Homo sapiens: one gene and its partners. The protein of the gene in region 1 interacts with the protein of each later gene in a pairwise test. Each region holds a gene or a part of one and is shown in the gene's direction. Other genes may lie near its edges. The genes, in order: ARID4B, DNAAF6, NHSL2 and DYNLT1.

Region 1 (7,032 bases):
CTTTATGCTATAGCAATGTCAAATTACATATGTTGCTGCTACTCACCTTTGCATATGCTAGTACCTCTGTAGGCACCACCTTTTCCTCCCCTCCTTCCTTAGTCAGCATGGTACATTCCTGTTCAATTTTCAGAACCCTACTTAGGTGCCATCTCTCTAAAGAGAAACCTGTGAACCATCACCTCCCTCACCTCAGGAAAGCACCAGTTCATTTGCTAGTCTAAACTACTACTGCTCCTGGCAGGCACGGTGGGTCATGCCTGTAATCCCAGCACTTTGGGAAGCTGACGCTAGCGGATCACCTGAGGTCAGGAGTTTGAGACCAGTCTGGCCAACATGGTGAAACCCCGTCTGTACTAAAAATACAAAAATTAGCTGGGTGTGGCTGGGCGCGGTGGCTCACGCCTGTAATCCCAGCACTTTGGGAGGCCAAGGCAGGCAGATCACCTGAGGTCAGGAGATCGAGACCATCCTGGCTAACATGGTGAAACCCTGTCTCTACTAAAAACACCAAAAAATTAGCCGGGCATGGTGGTGGACGCCTGTAGTCCCAGCTACTCAGGAGGCTGAGGCAGGAGAATGGTGTCAACCCGGGAGGCGGAGCTTGCAGTGAGCCGAGATCACGCCACTGCACTCCAGCCTGGGTGACAGAGCCAGACTCCATCTAAAAAAAAAAAAATTAGCTGGGCGTGGTGGCAGGTGCCTGTTATCCCAGCTACTAGGGAGGCTGAGGCAGCAGGATTGCTTGAACCCAGGAAGCGGAGGTTGCAGTGAGCCGAGATGACACCACTGCACTCCAGCCTGGGCGACAGAGCAAGACTCTGTCTCAAAAACAAGACAAAACAAAAAAAGAATTACTACTGCTCCTTATACATATTTTTGTCATTTATATTTATTGTCTATTTTTTCTTCCCCACGAATTTGTAAGTTCCTTAAAGTTAGGAATGCTGTCTTACTCGTATTCATACTTAAAGTGTCTGTCATAGTGTGTAAAATATAACAGATGATAAATAGCTACCAAACCTTTTGGTGCTTAGTGTTTTCACAAGTGTTTTTGTAAAAGCAAATCTGTAGTGTAGTGTAAACATTTTCTTGAGTTAAAAGCTTACCTTAAATGTTTTTGGAATAGGAAAAATTGTGCTGTTTATTAAAGTTAAATATTGTACCATGGGAACATTTAAGATAACATCTAGAAAATAGATGTCCTTAGATTTGTATTTGATCACCTTACCAAAACCTGAATGTATGGAGTGTGTTTAAATTGAGAAATACAGATTCATCATTAGCAAATTAATGGTTGTCATTTATTTTTCTCTGCCCAATTAGAAAACCTAATAGTTGATCAACATAGGCTTTAAAAAAAAAATTACCTTTCTTTGTTGTACTAGCTTTTAAATTAAAAAGACAATCTCGCTAAAGCAGTGGCATTAGGCACATGATTTTCCAAATTGAAAAATGCTATGTTTTTATTTATTTAGATTACCAGTTGAATATCCTAACTTTTACTGTTACAAATCTGTATATTTAAGCCAGAGTAACTGTAAAGCCTAGCTGTATATTTGGAATCATTTTCTCTGCAGTTACTCCTAATCATGTTCTGTAACAGTAGGCTCCATAGCCTATTTTTTCTTTTATTTGATTCAGCACCTGGCATAGTACCTACACTTACAGGTGCTCAAGTGTTTGTTGAATGGATGAAAGTCATTGAATTGGTGAGTTCCTCAATCTTAACCTACTACCCTGCTCCTTGCAGGTTGCTTCAGGACCAGCTCCCTGCTGCCACAGCCCTTGGCCACAGCAGCAAGAAGCTAGTCCTTCCCTTGTAATTGATAAATTGGGGAACTATTTTATTACTTGAAGATTTCCCTAAGTCTGAATCTTCAGGTATTGTAGATCAAATTTGTTCCCCACTTTACTGATTATGTAAGCTTGAAGTATATACAGTGGGGCTGCATAAAATGAAGGATACTTGCAGTCAGCTAATGGGACCCATACTTTTATAGTACCTTGAGGAGCAATAATAGAATTAGTTTTGATGTTTAACTCTGATCCAGTTTCGCATAAGTTGAGAGTAGGTATTCTTGAACCTGTGATCCTGATTTGAAAAATAGCTCTCTCATATGGTAAAAAAAACAAAACAAAACAAAACAAAACCACGAACAGTCTTGCTAGTCCCTTTTCTCATATGGGAATTTTTACTGTGGGGATTCTAACTATTGGGATACTTTTTAAGGCATATTCCTCTATAAAACATAAAATGTCTAGACTTACCTGGTTTTGAACAGCTTAGTGTTAAAAGAGTAACTTTGATTACGTAAAAAGCCTTTGAAGTATTTTAATGAACACTAGTCTTTGCTATTGGTAAGAAATCTGCTTGTTTTATTAAAATGCTTAATTGAAGAAAATAATATTCTTCTGTGATTAAAATTAGGAAGAAATAGAACCATTTCCAGAAGAAAGGGAGAACTTTCTTCAGCAATTGTACAAATTTATGGAAGATAGAGGTGAGTATTTTTTATTTATCATTAACGTGGTAAGTTTTGGACAGATAATTAGTATCTTAAAAATAAGAATAGAATTTTGTTTACTGAACTTTATGTCATCAGTAATTATGGCTGTCTTTTTGACTCTGATATCACCAGCACCTAGCATAGCGCCTGTCACGTAACAAGTAGAATGAGGAATTTGATAGCATTTTGACAGATATTGTGGCTATGGACACATAAATGCACTTATTACCCTGTCCTGCCAATCCCTTTACCTATCCATGGGTCCCTAAAGAACAGTAGCAAAATGGGAATTAAGCCAGAAATAGATAAAGAAGTGTGACAAAGTCTCAAAAGTGAGCCTTGGCTCAGCTTATTTAATCTGCCAGAAGCTGCTAAGGCCACGGAAGGATTGAAGGAAGAAGAATAACTTAGGGTAATGAACTAATCCTTCCGTAACCTCAACACTGTTATTCTCTAGCTTATCTTCTTGGTCAGAGTCTACTTTCTTCTTTTCTGGGAAGATGCTTGTAAGGGAGTAAGGAGAGGCTTTCTAGCTGGAAGGGAAGGGCAAAATGAATGATTAGTGTTTGGAAACACCACAATACTCTGGGAATTGAACGTTTTCTAAATCCCTGATTGTAATGCTGATGAGTAGAAACTGACTCTGTTTGTCATGTTTAGTTTTCATAAATGATAACAACGCCTAACACAATATAAGTATATTTTCTTTTTCAATATAAAATGTCTTTGATTCTTGTATTATTTCTTTACATGAATGGAGGGTTGGCCTAAGAAGTATGCTGTTTCATAGGCTCTTGTATAAGATAAATGAAAAAGCAAAGAAAATGAATAAAATCTAATACTAGAAAAGAATGAAAAAATATGATTAAGCCAGTCATATATTTTGTAGAAATGGCCATATGAGGCATTGTACCCCTACCCTGTTACCTCCTCTACCACTTTCTCATGGTTTGTTTGATTTAGCATCCTTGCCTTGCGTTTTCTTGTGTTAGAATGAAAAAAAAAAAAAAATGTAGCTTTACTATAGAATCATTATTTAGAGTAGTAGTAAATTGGTAAAATACAAAGAAAATGCCATAAAAGTAACTCTTATTGGGAAGCAGTTATCTAGTATTTCTTCCCTCAGCAGAGGGAAGAAAGTAGAATGAAAATAAAAGGTTTCAAGAATCTGGTTATGGTTTTTAAAATTTAAAAAATTTTAAAGTGGCCATGGGCTTATTTATGTGTAGATACCATGTCTTTGATTAACAAGATAATTTCTCATATATATATATACATATATATGTATATATACACACACATATATATACGTGTATATATATATATACGTGTATATATATATAAAATACTATAAATACTTGTATTATTTGAATCTTTTGAAATTTTAAATTAAAAATGTAGTGTGGATCTAATATAGTTTGTGTTTTCTGTAACAGGTACACCTATTAACAAACGACCTGTACTTGGATATCGAAATTTGAATCTCTTTAAGTTATTCAGACTTGTACACAAACTTGGAGGATTTGATAATGTGAGTGTTGTAGTCAAACTGAAACATCTTTTTCATGTAACATGTTTTCTCAGGTATCTGCCATCTCTGAAATTGTTTTTCTAAACAACAAAACAAAGTTTTTCAGTAAAAACCTAAGAAGAAGATAAAGTGGAAAGTACAGCTAGCCTCCTCAGACAAAATTTAAATTTTAAAGATTTTTTAGGCCAGGCATGGTGGCTCATGCCTGCAACCCCAACACTTTGGGAGGCTGAGGCGGGTAGATCACTTTAGGCCAGGAGTTCAAGAACAGCCTGGCCAACATAGCAAAACCCCATCTCTACAAAGAATACAAAAATCAGCCAGACGTGGTGACGCACGCTTGTAATCCCAGCTACATGGCAGGCTGAGGCACGAGAATCGCTTGAACCCAGGAGACAGAGATTACAGTGAACCAAGATTGCACCGCTGGACTGCATTCCAGCCTGCGTGACAGAATGAGACTCTGTCTCAAAAAAAAAAAAAAAAAGATTTTTTTTCATATCAGCTTTCTGATTACTGTTAAATTGGTCAATCTTTCATAAACCTTCTTTTTTTATCTGAGTCACAGCACAGCCATATTGGTGGAAATCCTTCCTGTGTCTCTTTTTCATTAGACAGTATGCTCCTTAAGAGCAGGGATCTGTCTTAATATTCTGTATATTCTTAATCCCTTTCAGAATATAAAGGGATTAAAGCAGGAAATGTTTGTTGAACTGATCTGAAGAAATTATTTTAAGGTTGACGTGATGTACGATACTTATCCAATTGAGAATATTCTATGGAATAAAATACTTTACAAATTTCTGCAGAACTGCATTTATTAGCCTGTATATTTTATGCGAAATAATAAATCCTTTAAAAATGTTTGTCTCCATTTCTTTGTTAAAAATTTTGATTTAAGAGCCTGAATATTTTTCCATTTTCCATAACTGGGTTTATTTAAAAGTCAAATGGGGCCAGTTATGGTGACTCATGCCTGTAATCTCAGCACTTTGGGAGGCTAAGGCCAGGGGATTGCTGGAGCCCAGGACTTTGAGACCCGCCTGGGCAACATGGTGAGACTCCATCTCCACAAAAAAAATTTTTTAATTAGCCAGGTGTGGTGGTGTGCATCTATAGTCCCAGCTACTTGGGTTGTTGAGTCAGGAAGATCCCTTGAGCCCGGAAGTTCAGGGCTGCAGTGAGCTGTGTTTGTGCCACTGTTGCTGCACTTTAGCCTAGGCAATAGAATAAGATCCTGTCTCCAAAAAAAAAAAAAAAAAAAAAAAAAAAAAAAAAATAGTCAAATGACTTAATATTTCAACATTTATAATTTTCTGATATTTGTTAGAGTACTAAAACCTTTATTTTTAAACCAAATTTAGAATTTATCAAGTTTTTAAAAATTCTTTTGAGTCTAGGACCAATAAATATAAAAATATACTCATATATACTGTGTCTATCAAAATGTTATTATATTAACACCTTTTAATTTGAGAGTTTTTGTTTCACTTTGTCCATTAGATTGAAAGTGGAGCTGTTTGGAAACAAGTCTACCAAGATCTTGGAATCCCTGTCTTAAATTCAGCTGCAGGATACAATGTTAAATGTGCTTATAAAAAGTAAGTTAGTATAATTGATATGATTATCTTCAGTATTTTTACCTAGAAAGCAGGATGAAATTTACCTTATAACTGAGGTTAATTATTTCTTTAAAGAAATCAGAACATTTTACTAGAGTAGTCATTCTATGATAGTATTTTCTAAAGTGTATTCTATGATACTAGATCTATGAGAAATTCTGTGAAGAAAGTTTTTGTGGCTAAGTACATTTGTCAAGTACTTCATAGAGGTTAAAAAGCTAATATTCTGAAGTCAAGTAAATCCACATTTGAATCCTAGTTCTGCCAATTATTAACTGTTTATGCCCTAGGGCCAGTTATTTATTCTCCTAAGCCTCAGTTTCTTCATTTGTAAAATGGAATGCTTGGCCAGGCACGGTGGCTCATGCCTGTAACTTCAGCACTTTGGGAGGCCGAGGCGGGCAGATCACTTGAGGTCAGGAGTTCAAGACCAGCCTGGCCAGCATGGCGAAACCTTGTCTCCACTAAAAATACAAAAATTACCTGAGCATAGTGGCTAACGCCTGTAGTCCCAGCTACTCAGGAGGCTGAGGCAGGAGAATTGCTTGAACCCAGGAGGCGGAGGTTATAGTGAGCTGAGATTGCGCCACTGCACTTCAGCCTGGGCAACAGAGTAAGGCTGTCTCAAAAAAACAAAAAAAAACAAAAAAAAACAAAAAAAGGATGCTGCTGTGTGCCCCAGGGTTACTGTAGTGACTAAATGAGATTTACTAAGGAGTCCAGCCTCACACATAAGAAATGTGCAAAAAATAGATGCTATTACTAATACTTTTAATAGCTGTTATTGTTATGACTCTGAGCACAGTGTTTTAAATGAATTTTTTGACAAAATTTTTTTTTTGCATTGAAAAGATTAGAAAGAACTAGAATAAATTAGAATGTTAATATGGCTCAATATCTGAGAGTTTAGACAAAAGAAATGAATACACATTAAAAATAACTCTATAGTTATATTTTGAAATGTTTTCACCAAATGTAATTTCTCTTCATGTTTCCAGATACTTATATGGTTTTGAGGAGTACTGTAGATCAGCCAACATTGAATTTCAGATGGCATTGCCAGAGAAAGTTGTTAACAAGCAATGTAAGGAGTGTGAAAATGTAAAAGAAATAAAAGTTAAGGAGGAAAATGAAACAGAGATCAAAGAAATAAAGATGGAGGAGGAGAGGAATATAATACCAAGAGAAGAAAAGCCTATTGAGGATGAAATTGAAAGAAAAGAAAATATTAAGCCCTCTCTGGTAAATCAGATATTGTTAATTGTCTTTTGCTTTCTTTGGTATATTTTCCATATCCTCTATAAAGTTCCAAAATCAATATATTGTATAATATTATTCTTTATTATTTGTTTATTTTCTTCATTAAGTG
Region 2 (7,032 bases), on another chromosome or scaffold:
TTTTTAGTAGAGTCGGGGTATCGCCATGTTGGCCAGGCTGATCTTGAACTTCTGACCTCAGGTGATCCACCCACCTTAGCCTCCCAAAGTGCTGGGATTACAGACGTGAACCACTGCGCCCAGCCCTGCTTGGTGGTTCTTTATCACCCTGATTTTATTTACCATATATACTTGAATTAATAAAATCTATTATCTATTTGAATAGTCTGTAATTCAGAGTTTTCACTAATTTAACCTAGACTTTTCTACAATTAACTGATGTCAAAAGCCATCTTTATTGATACTGTGAAGGAGACAAATAAAATAGAAAGCATGATCCCAGCCTTAGAACCAGTCTGACTTTAACTCAAGGTTACTGATGTTGCTTAAGTGCTGTGGGTCTGGAGCCAATCTGGTTGAACTTTTTCAGCCCCTGACTGGCTCCAGTGTTATGGTAATGAGCTGGTTCTGGAGTGTCAGTTGCTTTAGCTCATTGTGGCTAGTAGATGGTCCAATCATGCCTCTATTTATGAAGACCCCAAGTACTCAGGTTAATGTGGGAAAATCAAAGGCTCTGTCTGGAAAATGTTGCCATTAGCATTGGCCTAGCAAAAGAGAAGGAGAGAAAGAAAAACAAAGGGCCTAAAAAATTTATTTTCTAAATACAAATCTCAAATAAAAGACAGTAATATATTTTGTTTTTACTGAAACTCTTAAATTTTCCTTACTTTAAGTTTATTCTTGGCCTATTTAAGTGACAGTGCCAGATTCAAACATTTTAGGCAGTGTGGCTCCAGAATCTTCTTTTTCATTTTTTATTGTTATTATTTTATTTATTTATTTATTTTTGAAACAGGATCTCACTCTGTCTCCCAGGCTGGAATGCAGTGGCCCGATCTGGGCTCACTGCAACTTCCATCTCTGGGACTCAAGCAATCATCCTGCCTCGGGCCCCTGAGTAGATGGGACCACAGGGGCACACCACCGCGCCCGTCTAATTTTTGTATTTTTTGTAGAGTCGGGGTTTCGCTATGTTGCTCAGGCTGATCTCGAACTCCTGAGCTCACGTGACCCGTGAGCTCACCTTGGCCTCTCAAAGTGTTTGCATTACAGACGTCAGTCAGCCACCATACCCGGCCAGAATCTTCTTTTTAAAAATCGCTACACTGTACTATCCAATAAGTCAGGGCAAAAGGAAGAATGCACTCCAAGGTACAAAGGCAGGAAATTATAGAGTATGTTTAATAAGCAGTTTAGTTTTTAACAGAATATGTAGGAGAATAATAGAAGGGAAGGACAGAAAATTACGTTGGGACTATATCCTGAAGGACCTTGATTGCCAGACTCAGGATGAACTTAAATGTATATCACATTTAGAAATAAAAGATAGAGCTATAAACTAACACTGCATAGTTCATTGTAGTGAAGATAGTTCCCTACAAATAGTTCTTTGTAGTTCCTAAAAAGTCCTCCTGTTTTAGTTTTTCAGCTGTGATCCACTTGTGTCAAATGAATTTTAATAAATGTTTTTTAATAAAGTTGAATAAGTTATTCTAAATATGTTAGACTTCTTAAAAAGCTAGTAGAATCTTCCTTTCCATTGAATTTTGAATGTTTTTTTCTAAAAATTCACAAACTGTTTTTCTCTTTTGATACTTTGAACCATTTAACTAGTTAGTCACAAAATATTTGGGATTCTTTTGTTTATCAAAATACAATATCAACAAACTTGTCATGATTGATTTATTTATTTTTGTTGTCATGATTTATTAATTTGTGTTTACAGATTATTATTACATTTGATATGGCAAAAATATTTTGGCTAAAGTGGTAATTTTATTATTATATTTCTATTTTAATTGAGCTATAGTGCAAATCTATGGCATTTTATTCCAGCATAATTTGGAAGTCCAATTGTACTTTAAGAAGTCTAACTCCTAATATGCTTCAGATATATAAAGTGTTACTAAGAATTATTGTGAATAATTTAACAAAAACAAGTGTACACGTTCCAAGGAGGACCATCCCCTTCGAAGTAGTCACTTTAGGAGACTAATCTATTTACTCTAATGTTGTTGTTATTGCTAAAATTGCTTTTGAAACTTCTGTTTTAGAATCACCTTGAGGCATGTAGCACATTCTTTTGAATATCCTCAAAGAAGAAAATCTTCATATTTTGAAAGTAGACATGATATCTAAATATATCTAGAAATCACTTGGCGACAAATCTGATGTGTAATCAAACCAAATGATACCATAATGATACCATAATGATACCTATTTTCTTGGTGATACATATGAAGGCAATTCCAAATAAAAAGAAAAATCCCAAAATATTTTGAGCATTGATAGCATAATTTACATCAGTGTATAACCTTCCAAATGACTATTTTGAAATATAACATTCAGATGAATTTAGTCATGCTTCATTTGGTATTAATCAACTGCTGACTATGTGCCAGCTGCAGTTATTAAAGACACTAAATCTACAGGTATAGCTTCCCACTGCTCACACTGGCCTACTTCCCACCTAATGAGAACCAGGCCAGAGTTCCTTTCCAAATAACTGGTAGGGATTCAGAATTAATCTGGTTTTTCTGAATCCAGTATCCAATGTACCAAAGGAACCATAACATTCCTTCATAACCTCCACTGTGGGTACCTAGGTGACACGAGAAAGCCACCGACACAGTGCCTGGTTTGTTTTCTCTTTTCCAGCTGGAACTTTGAGCCCTATTCTGCCCTATTCTGAACCTTCATCTCTAGTAGTCAACTTGTGCACAAACCTCAAGAACTGTACCCCACCTTCTATAGGCCAGCGTCCTTCTTCACTTTAAATAGGTCTCCCTGTAACCATGACTTCAACCTTTCTGCCCTGAAGCACTGCTCATGTCTAAAAAATATGTTCCCAAATGATGATACATAATGTATCATACACTTTTTCTAGAGGTAGGGCTTAAGAATCTGCATTTTAAACCAACTCCCCCAAGTGATTATTAAGCACATTAAAACCCGAGAACCACTATACTAGGTGCTCAATAAGTGCTTGTTAGCTTGAGTATGACATTTTAGTAAAGCAGGCTGAATGTTTGAGTTTACTTGGTGCTCCAGGTCTGTGAGTTAGCAAAATACATATATTTGAAGGAGTTTAAAAGGATTTCCAAGGAAGTATAAGAACCAATGGAGTGATCCAGGGAAAGAAGGGAGATATGACAATAAAACATCTTCATGTCTTAAATAAAACAGAAAAGTAAAATACCTCTTTCTGATTATCTTTTTCTTCAGATAATGGAATCTGAAAATATGGATTCTGAAAATATGAAGACAGAAAATATGGAATCTCAAAATGTAGACTTTGAGAGTGTTTCTTCAGTTACAGCTCTGGAAGCCCTCTCTAAGCTACTTAATCCTGAAGAAGAGGATGATTCTGACTATGGACAGGTGGTCATATACTTAACAGTTGAATTAGTTTTGTTCATGGGAAGTTGTGGAACTGTATTTGAATAACCTGTTCCCACCTAGCTGTGGGAACAGAGCTGTGTCATTTGATACATTCACAGGAAGCTACAAGGCTGATTATGCATGACAATGTAACCTGTAGTACATTTCTAGCAAAGATAATTATATTTTTCTAAACCACCTGAACACTGAATAGGAAAATAGTTCTGTAACTGTGGTAGCAATAGCCACATCTCAAAATGTTGTCATTTATATTTATAGCCAAAGAATGCTTGACAACCATTGCAGAGTGGTAGCTAGGATTGTTTAAGCCTAGGCAATATTTCTATAAAACAAATATTTTCAGTTATACAGTATTAATTGGACCACCAAGTACCAGTCCCTTAATTTTTTAATTTGTCTACACATTAACGCAGAACAGAAAGTTTTTGAGCCAAATAATAGGGCAAACTAGTTTCAGCCTACCAAAATTGGCTTCCCAGTAATGCACAAATAAAGTTGTGGAGTCTAATTAGTTGAGTAGCATTTGGGGTCAAGATAGGTAATGCCAGCAAGGCTTGCAGTAGCAAGATGGGCTTCATTTTGGGTAGAAGAGTTCATTGAACTGACCTTTGACCACTCCAAGGTTACTGCCAGTATTCCCAGAACAATTAAAACACTTTTATATAACTCCCTGCTCTCCATTCTCCTATTTCTTAACTATCGGTGAGCCTTGGCTATCAGACTGCCTATGATAGGGCAAACAAAATTTGGGGCAAAAAATCCCATATCATAACAGAATCTGTCAATTTGCATAAAATTATTTTAATGAAGTGTTTTGTTATATGACCAATTTATCATGAATAAATCATCTTTCACAAACGTACATATCAATTTACTCCTCCCAAAATTTATTTTTGCCACAATGTGGAGAAAAAAGCAAGCTATGAACAGGCAGCAAATTCAGTGGCTCAGATTGACACTGAACTGAGCTACCACCCTAAGGAAGAGCTTAGGTGGAATAGGGCAGAATAAATAAGATGTGAAATGGGAATAACATTTGTAGAAGAACTGAGTCAGCTTGGAGCCAGGATCAGGAACCAGGAAGTTTTAGTCAGGGAAAAGTCTTAGTAGAGGCTAAACAAAGAAACATCAGGATGTTAATGACAGCATTAGCTATACACAACAAACAGGATACAGGAGAAAAAGTTAGGAACAATGTATCAATGAAGTTGGGAAGGCAAGCTCATTTTTGCTACCTTAGTTGAGTAGCAGAATAATAATTTTCTGGAGCCTACATCCTAGGAAAGGTAAGGTTATGCCATATAGAAAAAGTATATCAAGTATTTGAGAAACAGTGACCTTGAATATAGTGAAGTGGAACTTGTAACTGGGACAGATTCAAATATAAGGATTTACCCTGGTTACAGAGCCTATTCCATTTGGTGTTTATGGCTGGAGGTGTTTATTTGCATCTAGAGGTGTTTCTAGGAGAAAAGATGAGTGCTTATGAGAATAGACTAACATAATATTACTGAGTTGTACAGTTTATAAAGGAAAATTACTATAATAATGTATGATTCTGTATATCTGGGTTATAAACAATTTTGAGATAATTGGTCATTCAGACACCACAGTACAGATATCATTAGAGGACATACAGTATCAGAACAGTGGGAGAATAATTAATGTTTCTAATGAACTATTACATTTTCCAGGAGAGAAACTGCTTTTCATTTTTTAACATGTATTAATCTTGGGAACTGTGGGATGATTACAAGAGTGATGTGTTTTTGAAAATATGCTCTCTGAAAACAGCAAGAGAACAGTTGCATACACATTGCTTCATTTACACTATCCCTTTTCTATATGACTTGTTAAGAATCTGGGAGATTGAGGAGAGAGTGTGTCTGTCATTTTTCAAAGCCATGAGGGGATCTTAAGGCCTGTGGGAAATAAGGTTCACTGCTCTTCACAGACATTATAACGAGGATGTTCTGTCTTACATATTACAAAGTGGCATGAATTGCAGTGATAAATTGCTCAGATAATTGGCTGTAGATTCATGGTAAAGGCTCAAATGATGTTCTAATAGAAAACAATTGCCAGATGGTTTTTAATGTTTTTATGATCCCATTCCATCTTTTAACTTGAAAATTTTATTTTTAATCATTTATTTTCATTAAATTAATAAATTGAAACTCCCATGTGTTCTGAGCCAATCACTGTCCATGGAAAGTATACCAATTTTTGTCAAGAATGTCCAAGGTTTTACTTCTACTGCTTTTAATTTTCTGTGGAAGGCAGCACTCAACTAAACAAGAGGCCCTCATGTTCTGAGAAATGCTTTACTCTGACTATTAGTGTTCTGATGATTAATAATTTAAGAAAAGTACTACACATTTACATGACATTAGTGATTAAAAAAGAGGGAAAAAAATGTCCCAAATATTATCTTGGGATTTTCACATAAAAATGCCTGTAATGCCTTAACCGCAGACATAGCACTTTTGAAACACCTTTTGGAAAGGAATAGTTACTGTCTCAGACACTGTTGAGAGATTATAGATTAATTTCTGATTTATAACTCTTGGAATAGTTTCACATAATAAAGACCCACGTGAGCTGTTCCATCAGCTTTCAAGAACAGACACTACTCTCCTTGCCCAAACAAGACATTCTAACTTTTGTACATGTCTAAAGTCTTAGGAGATGAGGACAGGGGCCTGAGAAAAGAGAGATAGAGGTGCTAGTTGGCCAGTAGGCAAGGAGATAAGAATTTTTTGACTGCCAGCAGTGGAGTGAGTTGGAGCTGCAGGGTCTGTCATCAGCAAAAAACAATTGGTAAGAAATTGGGATTTTCTTGAAATATCAAAGAATCCCTGAGACGGGCCAATGAGGTGGTGTCGCTATGTGTTATACTTAGTTGAAAAAAATGAAGATTGCTTGTATTGGTGAGTCAGGGCAAGTCCTTTGGGGATGTGTATGCTTGTGCAGAAGATGGAAAAATAAACTTATGAAGTTATGAAGACTGAAGTACATCAGCATGTATTAGAGACTATTAATTTGTGGTTGCTGTTTAAATCCACTAGTTCAGTGTCATGAGGCGGTGGGACAGGGAAGTGTTTCATACCTATAGTGGAAAAAAGTAAAAGCAGTTATCAGGGCTTTTGAATGATTAATCTGAAGTCTGAATACTTAGCTTCTGCTTAGTGTTAGTTTTTATTTCTATAAAACTTTCACATACTCTGTCCTCCATCTGACTACAACCAGACACTGCTAAACCCCAAAAGTGTCAATGCCTTTATACTAATACTTGGTTCTAACCTTCATAGAGATGAATGTGGCTCGTTCCTCTATCCCCAGGGATACATGATTCACTGAGCTGGAACTAGGGTTTTAGCCTGACTAAAGATCAATTCTGCTCTTGAGTCTATTAAACCAAACACTTTTTGAAAGAACAAGGAAAGCATATTCGAAATAGTACTTGACATCTGTCTTTCTGTTTTATAACAATGATGGGTAATTAAAGTGGAAAGCTCCATGAGTTTTTTTATGGAAATCCTATCAAATTTAAAGTATCACTAGTCATATAGGTTATACAAGTATTAATTA
Region 3 (7,032 bases), on another chromosome or scaffold:
GGCCCTGAGAAGCAGCAGGGGAGGACAGAGAGAGGAGGAGCGAGATAGAGGAGGAGAAAGTGGATGCTGAAGAAGTTGAAGGTGCTTCTCTACACAATCACAATCATGGGTCATGCCCCCACCATCTTCAAGGTTACAGGGGTGGACTGGGCTAGGCTAGTTGCCTCGCAACATCCCACCCACTCCACTGAAGGCTGTTCTTTGGTAACATGAACCCCTTTGAGACTGCCCTAAAAGCTCTTGTAACTGGTATGGTGTGGGAGATGGGGATGGAAGGAGGAGACGGTAGACCACAGGACTGCCGAAGGCCCCTGTGGTTGTGGATCTGTGGCAGTTGCCACACCCTAGGCATGGCCCTGCCTATAAGTTGAGGTTTTCCCCACATCTGGTTTTGAATGTGTCCTGTTTTATGGCATCTGTGGCCTGTACACTGGGTTCTTCATCTAAAAAATGGTGTAGTCAAAGCCATTGGGAAATAGCTCCATGCCTGCCACCATATGCTGAGTCAATCTAAGCTTTCCAACTTCTCCCTTGGAGATCTATATAATGTTTGTAGGTGCTTAGATGATAATTACAAAAGCAATCAGGCCATCCGCGTAGGGATATAATATCTCCTTTGCCATCAAGGAAGTCACTGAAGGGCTAGATAATTCTAGGTATGTTTAATAACACTGGAAAACTATCATGTTACACTAGCTCATGAACTTGCTGTGGGAAAGATGTTCTGTTGCTTCTTACAATTATTTTGGCTTGAATACAGCCAGTTGGGTCCGTGGTGAAAACTCCCTCTTCATCTTTATGTAAAATTCCTACTTCTTGATTTTCCAACTTTATGGCAACTCTGGCTCCAAATCAGAAAGGACAGCTGGTTTATTTGTGTTTAAATCATAATTCCAGTGTGAGGATAGACTGTTGTAAATCTATACGGAGATGAAAAAATGAAAAAAGCACCTCCAGACTGCAATGAGTTTGCCATTAGATGAGGTGTTGTGGACCCTGAGTCTGACCGTCCTTGCTAATGAAGAGAAGAGATGGCCTCTTGAGTCAGATGGAGTGGGGAGGGTGGCAGGAATTTGGGGACTTGGAACAGGCACTCAGCCAGGGCTTACTTTGTCTCTGTGGTACGTTTCATCCCGAGGCTCTTGGGACAGAGGGTTGACAGAGTATGGAGGGAGAAGCAAACCCATTTTCTTTTCTCTTCCCACCCCACCCTGCTTTCCATTTTCTTTTTAAATACCATGAAATTCCTGGTCTGCTTCATGGTATTTCCATGTGTTGAAAACATCTTCCCTGGAGATTTGGATACCAAAATGTCCACTAGAATTTCTTCCACTTTAGAAACAAGACATTTAATCTTCTCTTTTTTAAGACACATGAATAGCTAAAGTGATAAAAGTGTCAGGATGTTGGAATAGTAGAGTAATAGGAGAAGATTCAAGTTATGGCTCTTGGGCTCAACCTTGACCTTGACGACATTGATTAGGTTTTAGGAGGAGAGTGGTATATTTACATCATCTGTTCCTGTACCTCTCTGGTGTGGTACCAACAATTCAGTCATTAACCACCATATGTGTCATAACACTTGACATCCCGGACCCAGAAAGGGGAAGGTACCTGTCCAAAGGCACCCAGCTGGATCAAGACCTTCAGTAGTCATGAGTGCTGAAAAGATTTTAGTGCCTCCCCATATGTAATTCCAAGTGAAAGCAATACTAAACCTTTAAACAAAAATGTTACTCTTTTTAAATGGCTCAAAGCTCACATGGATGTTGAAATTAAAATATCTTACTAGATTCTTTCTCCCTTCCTCTCTGTCTTTTGTACCCCTGCTGTTGGTGGCCTAATCATGTATTTAATCTGCTGATTTGGGAATGTGGTACCGGCTGGGTCACACAGCAGGTCAGTGACAGGAGGCCTCCACCTAGAAGCCATGCCTTCTGACAACCAGACTAGTGCTCTGCCCTCTGCAGTGATGCTAAGTTCAAAGTCAGTTGTTCTTCGAGAGTCATTTTCTTGGCATTTTCTCTAGTTGGAACTTGTCCAGGATGAGAAATAACTCCTGTTACCTTTAGTAACTGAGGGCACCCTGTGGTTCTGTAGTTGTGGCCGGGGGTGAGCTGAAGCTGGAGAGGAGAAAGGAAGGTCAAACTTTCTCATATAGAGAATATAGAGAATAGGTGTGAGGCAACAGGCTCTCTTGTTAAAGCAAAACATAGTCTTCTTTGAATGGAAAATTGCTCCAGAAAAAGGATCTTCAGGTGGGAAGGGGTGGCTGGCCAGTGACCCTGACACTGTTGCAATCCCTCCTGATCCCTCTGCCATCTTTATACCTGTTCTTCTCCCTTGTAGCTTTCAATCCAGTTGTAGACACTACTTGCCACACACCTGCATCCTGACTATTTTCTGTTATTCTAGTAGAGGCTGGTTGGCATTTCAGAAGGCACCTTTTATTAAAAACCAATGGGAACAAGAAAGTAACATTATTACCAAAAGTGCATTTAGCATACACATTTACAGGGTATGGATTTCTTATCCTTCAGTGCTCAAGTAGCTTAACAGGCTCACTGGCTTTGCTGCTGTATTCCCTTTCTGAAGGCCTCAAATCGTCTTTTCCTTAGATCATTATTTTCTAGCCTCGAAAAGTGGGCACAACTGCGTCTGGACCCTGTCTGACCTTTGTGCTGGGTGCTAAAGACCCAGAGGTGAATAAGACCCAATGTCTCCATTCGAGGAGCTGCCAAGCTGCAGAGGTAGGTGCCATCTCATTCCTGACCACATCAGCATGTGGTGCCTGGGAATCAGGTCTTATTTAGGTGGAGGAGAGCTGATAACCAGAACCAGGACCCTAGTTCACATACCAGAAGATTCTTCTGCTCAGTCCGGTTTGGCGTCCAAAGATGGAATTTGGACTTTTAGAATTCCCTATGGTAAAAACAAAAATAAAAACCAATCTGTCATTCTGTTAGTGTTATTGTGAATTTAGCAATGCTTTTAAATGAATTTGCAGTTTTAAACACTATAATGTTATCTTCATGCATATGAAGAGTAGTGCTTATTCAGTCCATAGACAATGCTTGGTGGATCTGCAAACTAACAGACTTCTTGTGATAACTCTATGGTCCTCTAGAGTCCTCTACTGTCAGTTGGGAATCGCTGGCCTTCCTGGTTCAAGCTATCAGCTCTCCCCTGCTCTGTGGAACTCCACAATTTCACTCAAATAAGCCCTCATTGAAGTTTTCAAGTTAGAGGGCACAGGATGGCAATCTTAACAGTCAAGACTACTTTAATAATGCCACAAACAGGAGGTATGTTTATTAAGTGTACAGGTAGTTTGCAGTAAAGTGCTTTGTATGAGGTCATGCACAAGACCACTAGGTATCAGCCAGTTAACTTGGGAGGTTTGAGCAATTAGGCAGCTCTTCCTCCCTCCCTTCCTCTCTCCCTCCCCCCTCCCTCCCTCCCTCCCTCCCTCCTTTCCTCCCTTCCATTCCCTTCCTCCCTCCCTCTCTTTCTAAAATGTAAGCTCCTCAATAAGATATAAGCTCCTTGAGGGTAGTAGTCTTTATCTGTTTTCACTGTTGTGTCTCCAGCTCCCAAAACAATGCTTGGCACCTAATAGGCACTTAATAAATACCTGTTAGATTGAATACCTTCTTTCTTTCTTTCTAGCTATCGCACACTCTTTGAGTACTTGACTCTGGGCCCTGCCCTGTGCTGATTTCTGGGGGTACAGAGTAGAACTAGGATGCAGGCCCACAGTCCAGTGGGGAGAACAGTGAGCCATAGTGCTGTGGAGATAAGGTCTAGGCTACCGGGGCAAGGCAGAGGAGGCACACCTGACTCAGGACAGAGGCTGAGCGAAGCTTCCAGGAAGATGTGATGTCTGAGTTCTGAAGGATGATCTGGAGCTGGCCGTTGAAGGTTGAAGAAGGTGGGGGAAGGAATTCCTGGCTCAGGAAGTAGCCTGTGCAAAGCCCTGGATATGTGAGAGAGCTGGTGTGGGGGAGGAATTCACTGCCAGTGATTCAGGAGGAGAGGGAGCAAGGCACCTCCTGACTCAGAATAAGCCCCCAGGGTGGAGGTGGGGTGGGAAGTTCCTCACATCCTGTTTGTTCGTCAGGGAGTTGGATATGAGGGTCTTGAGAAGGTTAAACTGCATGGTTCAAATGAAGTTGTAATATTAACTAACTGTGGATTTTCTTTATCTACACTCAAGTTTTCATTATCCTTGGGCAGATGAGACCCAGGCAACCTCGGCTCCTTCATGCTTTGCAGGGCCAGGCCCTGGGCCCCTCTAAAAAGGCTAGACAGAGCAGGAGGGGCTCCGAGCCACAGTGAGAAAGAGAGAGAAAGCAAGAGTCTACCTGCCTGTGTGTCCCCGGCTGTGTGTATCCAGTTGCACTCCAAAGCTAAATGTATTATTTATGCCCCTGCTTTTCTGTGAGTGGGGAAATTTGAGGCTTGACGATATCTTTTATTATTATTTTTCTTTCTGAATAGCATAGATTCTTCAGAATCGTCTGTAATTCATCAAGGGGAAAATCAGAATTTTTTTTTTTTTTTTAAAATGGACTCAAAGAGGAGATGAGTTTTTAAAAAATATCTATCATCTGTTTTTATTTTGACTGGAATCATTTGCTTCCGAGCACAGTGTAATTAGCTGCCTGACAATTTATAGCCTGATCCCCAGTAACTGAAAAATACCAAACTCAAATTATTCCCCCAGACTAGGAGGCCCGGAGGTGATTGAGGTCTCCTTACGTTAACATCCTCTGTCCTTGGGGGCTGAGGGGGAGGGCAGTTCTCTGCCCTTGCAGGAGGTGGTATCTCCGAGTTGTCAGCAAGACAGGCCTTGTTGTTATACACTGAGTGTCTCCTTTGACTCAGTAATTCCATTTCCAGGATTTTATGCTAAAGAAATAATCAGATATTGTGGGGGGAAAAATGTGCAGGGAACCCCCACTGCATTTTTTGGTTATTTGCATTAGCCAGAAAAAGGAAAATAACTTACACATTCAATAATAGGGGAGTGGTTATATAAATTTTCCTAGGTCTATGTGATAGACTAATATACAGCCATGAAAAGCTATGCTCTAAATGAATTATAAGGCTACATGGAAATGCACAAAATAATGCTGAGTAAAAACCAAAGATAAAATTTACTACTATATACAATATCGTCTAAAACAGAGCACCCACACAGACACATACACATAAGAAGAAACTGGAGAAGCCTATGCCAAAATGCTGACAATGATTATCTCAGGGTGATGGGATTATGGGGATGAGTGGTAGTATTTTCCTTCTACCATTCTGTATTTGTCAAAATTTCCCCAATCAACATCTATTACTTTTAGTAAATAGAAAAGACAATGGATGACATGTTAAGGAAAAGGATCTTTGGATTTGGAATCGTCAGCTTCCAGGTGAAGTCCCACTTGCCCAGCACCTACTATCTGACTCTAGTGTCTCTGAGCCACAGTTCCTCATCTGTAAAATGGGGTTAAATACTACCCAGTTCACAGGGTTGTTGTGAGGATCCAAAATAATGTATGTATTAATGAAATGCCTGGTGCCTATGCTGCAACCATGGACACCATCACTAAATACTAAGAAGGTGAAATTCCACGAAGCTTGCTGAAATCCCTGGATGGGGGTACTGTCAAGATGAAGTTATAATAAGAATGTTCCTAGACAGCTATGAATTGCAGCCATTCTTCCCTTTTCCAGAATATGTAAAGAATGTTTGTGTGCCCACGGAGGAGCCGCATCTAGCCTTTGAGGCTGTCAGCTCATCTTTCCCAACCCGAGGATTTTCCTTTCCTCTGACTCCTCCCTTCATTCTCCCCCACTGACATCTGTTCACTGCCTCGCCAACCAAGGGGGAAAACATTCTTTGGAACTGAAGCTGAGGCACCACCAAGAGTCAAGGCAGCTATGAGATGTTTATTGTCACAGAGAATATGTGGTGCTGGCTGACCACAGAACCTGCCAGGCTGGGATGCCAAGGAGGGACTTTAATGAAGCAGCAGAGGATGGATGCAAGCCGCATAGCCAGGCAGTGTCCCCTGCCTTTGGGCAGAGCTCTTGTCCAAGTGTCTCACTGGCTCTCTGTTTTCTTCCCCTTGGGATGTCTGCATGGCTCCTGGTTGAGCTCACCAGTTTTACAGAACCAGCCTGGTTTATGGGTGAAGAAACACCTTCTCACAGAACTTATGGGGCCTAAGCGTGTTTCAGTAAAGTACTGGGCAGTTTGCCTGAGGGCCCAGCATGCCTAACTCTCACCAGCGTGGATATGAAGCGAGGAAAACCTGAGCTCACAGCCAGGCAGCCTCAAGGACATAGGCACACCTCAGCAGTGTCTACAAGATGCCCTGGCCACCAGGCAATCCAGCCATCTCCCTGGGTAGAATCCTTCACACTGCATGTCTGATTGCATTTTTCATTTTTTAATTACAGCCGTAGACTCATATAGACTCTGACTGCCAATCTAAAGCACCTAGAGAGTTTTTTTAAATTGTTAATGTTTTGCTAAATTCTTAGTAATTATACAAAATCATTATGTAGACCAATAGATATTATTGACCAAGATATAGTGATGCTTAAAACAAAGTCCTCTGTAATCAGTACAACATGTTGGTAGAATTTACCCTAAATGTTAAAAAAAAAAAAAGTACTAATGCTGTGGCTCCACCCCATACCAATAAATCCAGAATTTCTGGGGGATGAGGCCCAAGAAACAGTACTATTTAAAAGTTCCCATGTGATTCTACCGTGCAGCTTAGGTGAAGAACTCCTGTTATAGATGTTAAAGCTGGGAGAGACCCAGTTTCCTGACTTATTTGAACACGCAATCCTTTACAAATTATACTTGTGGATAATGAGCATGAACTATGATGCAGACTTAGATTAAAGTAAGTGACAAAAAAAAATGATCTCGCAGATGAATTAATTGTAAGCAGTAATAATGCGAGGTTAGGTTACATATATATTTTGTTTTTGTTTTTTTTGAGACTGAGTCTTGCTCTGTCG
Region 4 (5,802 bases), on another chromosome or scaffold:
AAAATACGAAAATTAGCCGGGTGTGGTGGAGGGCACCTGTAATCCCAGCTACTTGGGAGGCTGAGGCAGGAGAATCACTTGAACCTGGGAGGCAGAGATTGCAGTGAGCTGAGATTGCGCCACTGCATTCCAGCCTGGGCTACAGAGCGACACTCCGTCTCAAAAATAAATAAATAAAAATAAAACAATACCTTTAAATTATGTGCATGTATTCTAGTCTTCTGGTTTCTGAAGACTGTAATGCCATCCTTGGTAAAGCTGAACAGTCTAGTTAGATTATTTCTAAGGTCTTCATTTCTACATTATGTTCATTACCTACATTTGCATTTATCAATGTAGTGGAAATATCTTTTAAATAAATCAAACTTAACTGAATGTTCTTCCTTACAGACTGCTTTTGTTGTTGATGAAGTGAGCAACATTGTAAAAGAGGTAAGAGGAGAAATGCTCACTTCTTAAATGTTTAATGGCTTATATTAGAGAAAATAATGTGTTTTAAATACTATCTTGGAATTGTTTCGACTGAGTCTGTGTGTTTTGGTGTTTCAAATAACAGTTTTTACTTCAGTAAATAGCTAGATAAGAGTTGCTTCTATATTATGTAAATTACATATTTTAAATCAGATAAGGAGTTTTATGTACATAGCATTATTACTGCATATCACCAAGATTTGATTCTATAATCTTTTAAGCATAAAAGAATCCTGGTATACAAATAAATGTCTCCAGGGTTGAATGAAGAAAGAGTGAGTATAAGAAAATTGAACAATCAATTTCCAGTTATTCTGGACCTAGTGATCCAGTTTGGGGCCTATTTGCTTACTTTTCTTACATTCCTAAATTTCACACTTTATTGTGTTGTTGATCATGAAGAGGAAGAGAGACAGAAGGGATGTTTGTTACTCATTCAGAAAGTACACACTGAGGGAGCGTGCAGGGCATAGACCCTTCTGGAGTTTACAGCTGAGGGGCAGGCAGGGCAGACACATCAAACAGTCCTGCTGGAAGGTGTCAGCCTGCATTTGCTGTGTGGTAAGTGCCACTAGTGGTGGTGCTGTGAGAGCACTGAACTGGGAATGTGACCCACCCAGGGAGTTCAGGGACCATTTCGAGCTGAAATCTGCAGAATGAGAAGTAGGGGTAATGCAGTAAAAAGAGGGGACAAGGCCCCCTGAGACTGGGAAGTGGGGGCAGTGCATGGTGTGTGAGGGAGTGAAAGGAGGTGGGTGTGGCTGGAGCGGTGCTGAGAGCTAGGGGCTCATTCCTACCTAGGGTAGGAATGAAGCCAGAAAGAGTTTTCCTCATCAGCTTCCCTGCCTTCCCTGGGTAAAATGGGGCACAGATACTAAAGCCATTGGCTAAAAGAAAACTATTAGATGATCTGAATTTAATGATACTGTTTGGGGTTTCAGATGTAATTTAGAATTTAATGTAAATTATTGACTAGTGTTTGATAAAAAACCGCAACCTATGTTTGTGATCAGTATCCAAAGGCAAAATGATTTTGTTTGACCATTTACATTGTTCAGCATCAGGAGTGACTTTCTGGTTGCTTTGCAGGATCTGTACGTTTGGTTTTCATGGTTTTTCTAAATACACAGTTTCACGTGGAACACAGCAGGGGGCAGGAAGGTGGGTGGATTACACCAGAACTGGGAACAGTGGAGGGGGCTTGTTGGGAAGTCTAGTTCTGCCGCAGTTGTTTTCTGCCTTATCTTTGACTTGGTTACCAGCTTTCAATTAGCAAGTGCAATTGAAAGTACACATTTCCATGCTGGGCGCGATGGCTCACACCTGTCATCCCAGCACATTGGGAGGCCGAGGTGGGCGGATCATGAGGTCAAGAGATCGAGACCATCCTGTCCAACATGGTGAAACCCCGTCTCTACTAAAAATACAAAAATAAGCCAGGCTTGGTGGCGCATGCCTGTAGTCCCAGCTCCTTGGGAGGCTGAGGCAGGAGAATCGCTTGAACCCGGGAGATGGAGGGTGCAGTAAGCCAAGATCACGCCACTGCAATCCAGTCTGGGCGACAGAGCAAGACTCTGTCTTAAAAAAACAAAACAAAACAAACACATTTCCAATCCACATGGAAACATGAGGTGACATTGCAGTGTTACTTGAACTTGTGTCACTGGCCTCAACAGCTTTTTTGCCGCCGCAATAGGTAATTCTGTACTCAAGTGACCCTAAATATTGGGTAGTAGTCAATTTGCGCAGGTCCAAAATTGGTGGAGGGTTCCCTCCTCCTTGAAAAACTGAATTTCAAAGTATGTGCGGAGGGAGAGCTGGCGGAGGGAGAGGTTTACCTTCAACAAAGCCTCCCCCACCCTTTGACGGGAGAGGTTTAGCTTGAACAAAGCCCCCCCTACCCTTTGACAATGCCCAGGTCTAGTAATACTGCTGTTCTCTTAAACCGGGACTTCTGGCCCCCCAGCCCTCTTGTAGCCTCTGAGCTGGGAGGGAGCACAGTGGCCGAGGACAAGAAGTAAGCCAGCCCTATGTGTAACGTGACTACTCAAGAGTCTCAGGGAGATGATCAGCAGGTCAGTGGGTAGAAATCAGAGTGACCTAGGGAGGTTTTAGGTCCTCAAAAGCAAGGTCGCCAGATCTAAGCCCCAGGCATCAGATCCCAGTCCATCACCACCATGCACAGCTCAGATCCCTGGACTGCTGGTTTGCTCTGCCTGTCTGAGGACAGACCTTGGCCCTCACTGAATGTTGTTATTTTCACTTTAGGTCATAACTGTCATAGAAACTCAGGTTCCTGGTTTCCAGCACAGCAAGTTAGGGGTAGAGAATAAAGTTGCTGAGATGCAAGCACACTGGCATCCATGTGAAAGGGGAGCTGACAATGAAAAACTCAGAAAATCATACAATGGCAATATCATAATGATAAGCTTAGCAAGAGCAGCGACAATGAGCTTGCATTGTCAGATAACCCCCAAAGAATACAGCATAGATAAAGAAGTAAACGTATAATAAAGAAAAAAAGTTGGGCTGGGTGCTGTGGCTTATGCCTGTAATCCCAGCACTTTAGGAGGCTGAGGCAGGAGGATCACTTGAGCCCAGGCATTTGAGAGCAGCCTGGGCAACAGAGCAAGACCCCATCTCTACAAAAAACTAGCCAGGCGTGGTGGCACATGCCTGCAGTCCCAGCTACTGGACAAGCTGAGGTGGGAGGATTGCTTGAGCCCAGGAGGGAAGCTGAGGTGGGAGGATTGCTTGAGCCCAGGAGGTCAAGGCTGCAGTGAGCCAAGATTCCATCACTGCTCTCCAGCCTGGGCAACATGACACCCTGCCTCAGAAAAGTAAAAATAAAAAAATCTCATCATAAACCTAAAATAAGTTTTGGAATATAAAGGGCTTTTAGTTATCTGAAAAATGCACTTAATGTGGTAACATGTTCTCAGACAATGCTGGATAAAAGTATTTTTTAATATATGATTATTTGGATAGCTTTGTATATTGTCAGTTGTACAAATACAATTCATCTAATATATAGTATTAGTGTATGTTAGGTAGTAGTAGATAAAAGTAATATACTTTTAAGAAATGAATAGGCAAAATACTTTCTAGCCTCAACAGGAAAAAAAATGTATTAATAGTAGTGAACATGAAATGTGATTATTAGGTCAAAATGTGTAAATAATTTGACAGACTATGAATTTTTGAAGCAAATTTCAAACTTATTTAAATGAAATATAATGCTATTAAAAGTATATTTGCAAAGGCACCCTCATGATTAAAAATAAACTTTTCATAAATCACTTCTTGGGGTGCCGTCAGTTCCTGATTGAAAGGTGGTGTGGGTGCATTTGGTTAACCGGGACGCGCTTTGTGCTTTGTTTTCTAGGCTATAGAAAGCGCAATTGGTGGTAACGCTTATCAACACAGCAAAGTGAACCAGTGGACCACAAATGTAGTAGAACAAACTTTAAGCCAACTCACCAAGCTGGGAAAACCATTTAAATACATCGGTAATGGAGTCTTGTTTCTTTTATATTTGCGGGATGGTTTTTTAACACTGATCAGAGGGGCATCCAGTACCAGAAACAACAGCTAACGTGGCTCAACTCAAGGAAGGCTCCTGGTGGGAGTCGGTCGTGTGTGTAGTATACGTTAGCGTACGCTTGACCATTTGGCTGCTGGTACAATTGCAGATCGTATGTGAAGCGGGATCTTACAGGAGGTCCCATCAGATGCTTTTAGAACAAGTGAAGCATAGAGGAAGTGTGGACAGCCCCCAGCTGACAGTGGCTCAACTTAGAATTTTTCAACTTTGATGGATTTACCAGGGTATTAAGTGCATTTGCAACTTACATTTTCATATATTGTTGATTTATGATGGGTTTATGGGATGTTGTAAGTCAAGGAGCACCTATAATTTGTCAATATAGTGAGACAAGGCAATCTGTCCCTATAATTTTTATCGAGAACATCAACCACGTGGAGCTACATACATTGTACGTTTGCTAAAAGTGGACAGAATGACATTTGTGTTACCCAGTAGACTTCTCTAACAAAAATTTGTTTTAACTTAAGTGACCTGTGTAATTATGCAGAAGAATGGAGCTGGATTACACACAGCAAGTTCCTGCTTCTGGGACAGCTCTACTGACGGTATGATTTTCATTCATGTTTGTGAAGTTTTGTTGTGTGAAATATATGACTGGAAGTTTCCTATCTTTGAATGCAATGCATGTTTATCACCTTTTAAAACATTTAATAATAGACTTGCCAAGGTTCTTTGTGTAGCATAGAGATGGGTACTTGAATGTTGGCCTTATTGTGAGTAAAACGTCGTCCCCCAGCTTTCCCTGCCGTAAATGCTGCTCTCTTCCCTCCCGCAGGGAGCTGCACTGTGCGATGGGAGAATAAGACCATGTACTGCATCGTCAGTGCCTTCGGACTGTCTATTTGACCTGCAGTCCAGCCTATGGCCTTTCTCCTTTTGTCTCTAGTTCATCCTCTAACCACCAGCCATGAATTCAGTGAACTCTTTTCTCATTCTCTTTGTTTTGTGGCACTTTCACAATGTAGAGGAAAAAACCAAATGACCGCACTGTGATGTGAATGGCACCGAAGTCAGATGAGTATCCCTGTAGGTCACCTGCAGCCTGCGTTGCCACTTGTCTTAACTCTGAATATTTCATTTCAAAGGTGCTAAAATCTGAAATCTGCTAGTGTGAAACTTGCTCTACTCTCTGAAATGATTCAAATACACTAATTTTCCATACTTTATACTTTTGTTAGAATAAATTATTCAAATCTAAAGTCTGTTGTGTTCTTCATAGTCTGCATAGTATCATAAACGATTTCTTCATAGTGAGTGGCTACAGAATCTATACAACCAGACCAGGCGCAGTGGCTCACACCTGTAATCCCACCACTTTGGGAGGCTGAGGCAGGCGGATCATGAGGTCAGGAGATCAAGACCATCCTGTCTAACACGGTGAAACCCCGTCTCTACTAAAAATACCAAAAATTAGCCAGGTGTGGTGGCGGGCGCCTGTAGTCCCAGCTACTCGGGAGGCTGAGGCAGGAGAGTGGCATGAACCCAGGAGGCAGAGGTTGTAGTGAGCCAAGATCGTGAGCCAAGTTCCCGCCACTGCACTCCAGCCTGGGTGACAAGAGCAAGAGTCCGCCTCAAAAAAAAAAAAAAAAAAAAAAAAAAAAAATATATATATATATATATACAACCAAAAAAAAAAAAGTTCTGCTGTGGTCCTCTCCATGATGTACTCATTTTACCCGTGGGACCAGGATCCTGACGGCTCTGCTGGGTTCTGGTTAGATTCC

What was found.
Region 2: the proteins of ARID4B (region 1) and DNAAF6 interact in binary tests that used the Homo sapiens proteins (3 or more experiments, as listed by UniProt).
Region 3: the proteins of ARID4B (region 1) and NHSL2 interact in binary tests that used the Homo sapiens proteins (3 or more experiments, as listed by UniProt).
Region 4: the proteins of ARID4B (region 1) and DYNLT1 interact in binary tests that used the Homo sapiens proteins (3 or more experiments, as listed by UniProt).

Annotation. Positions count from the first base shown.
Region 1 is NC_000001.11:235,220,175-235,227,206, reverse strand, and holds part of ARID4B (AT-rich interactive domain-containing protein 4B), read left to right. Parts: intron 1-1,644; exon of another isoform or gene 1,645-1,694; coding exon of another isoform or gene 1,695-1,712; intron 1,713-2,431; coding exon 2,432-2,504; intron 2,505-3,946; coding exon 3,947-4,041; intron 4,042-5,544; coding exon 5,545-5,642; intron 5,643-6,661; coding exon 6,662-6,905; intron 6,906-7,032. UniProt on the Homo sapiens protein: Acts as a transcriptional repressor. May function in the assembly and/or enzymatic activity of the Sin3A corepressor complex or in mediating interactions between the complex and other regulatory complexes.
Region 2 is NC_000023.11:107,209,609-107,216,640, forward strand, and holds part of DNAAF6 (dynein axonemal assembly factor 6), read left to right. Parts: intron 1-3,264; 5' UTR 3,265-3,267; coding exon 3,268-3,420; intron 3,421-7,032. UniProt on the Homo sapiens protein: Plays a role in cytoplasmic pre-assembly of axonemal dynein.
Region 3 is NC_000023.11:71,913,813-71,920,844, forward strand, and holds part of NHSL2 (NHS-like protein 2), read left to right. Parts: intron 1-7,032.
Region 4 is NC_000006.12:158,635,949-158,641,750, reverse strand, and holds the end of DYNLT1 (dynein light chain Tctex-type 1), read left to right. Parts: intron 1-390; coding exon 391-432; intron 433-3,856; coding exon 3,857-3,980; intron 3,981-4,545; coding exon 4,546-4,623; intron 4,624-4,853; coding exon 4,854-4,924; 3' UTR 4,925-5,277; downstream 5,278-5,802. UniProt on the Homo sapiens protein: Acts as one of several non-catalytic accessory components of the cytoplasmic dynein 1 complex that are thought to be involved in linking dynein to cargos and to adapter proteins that regulate dynein function.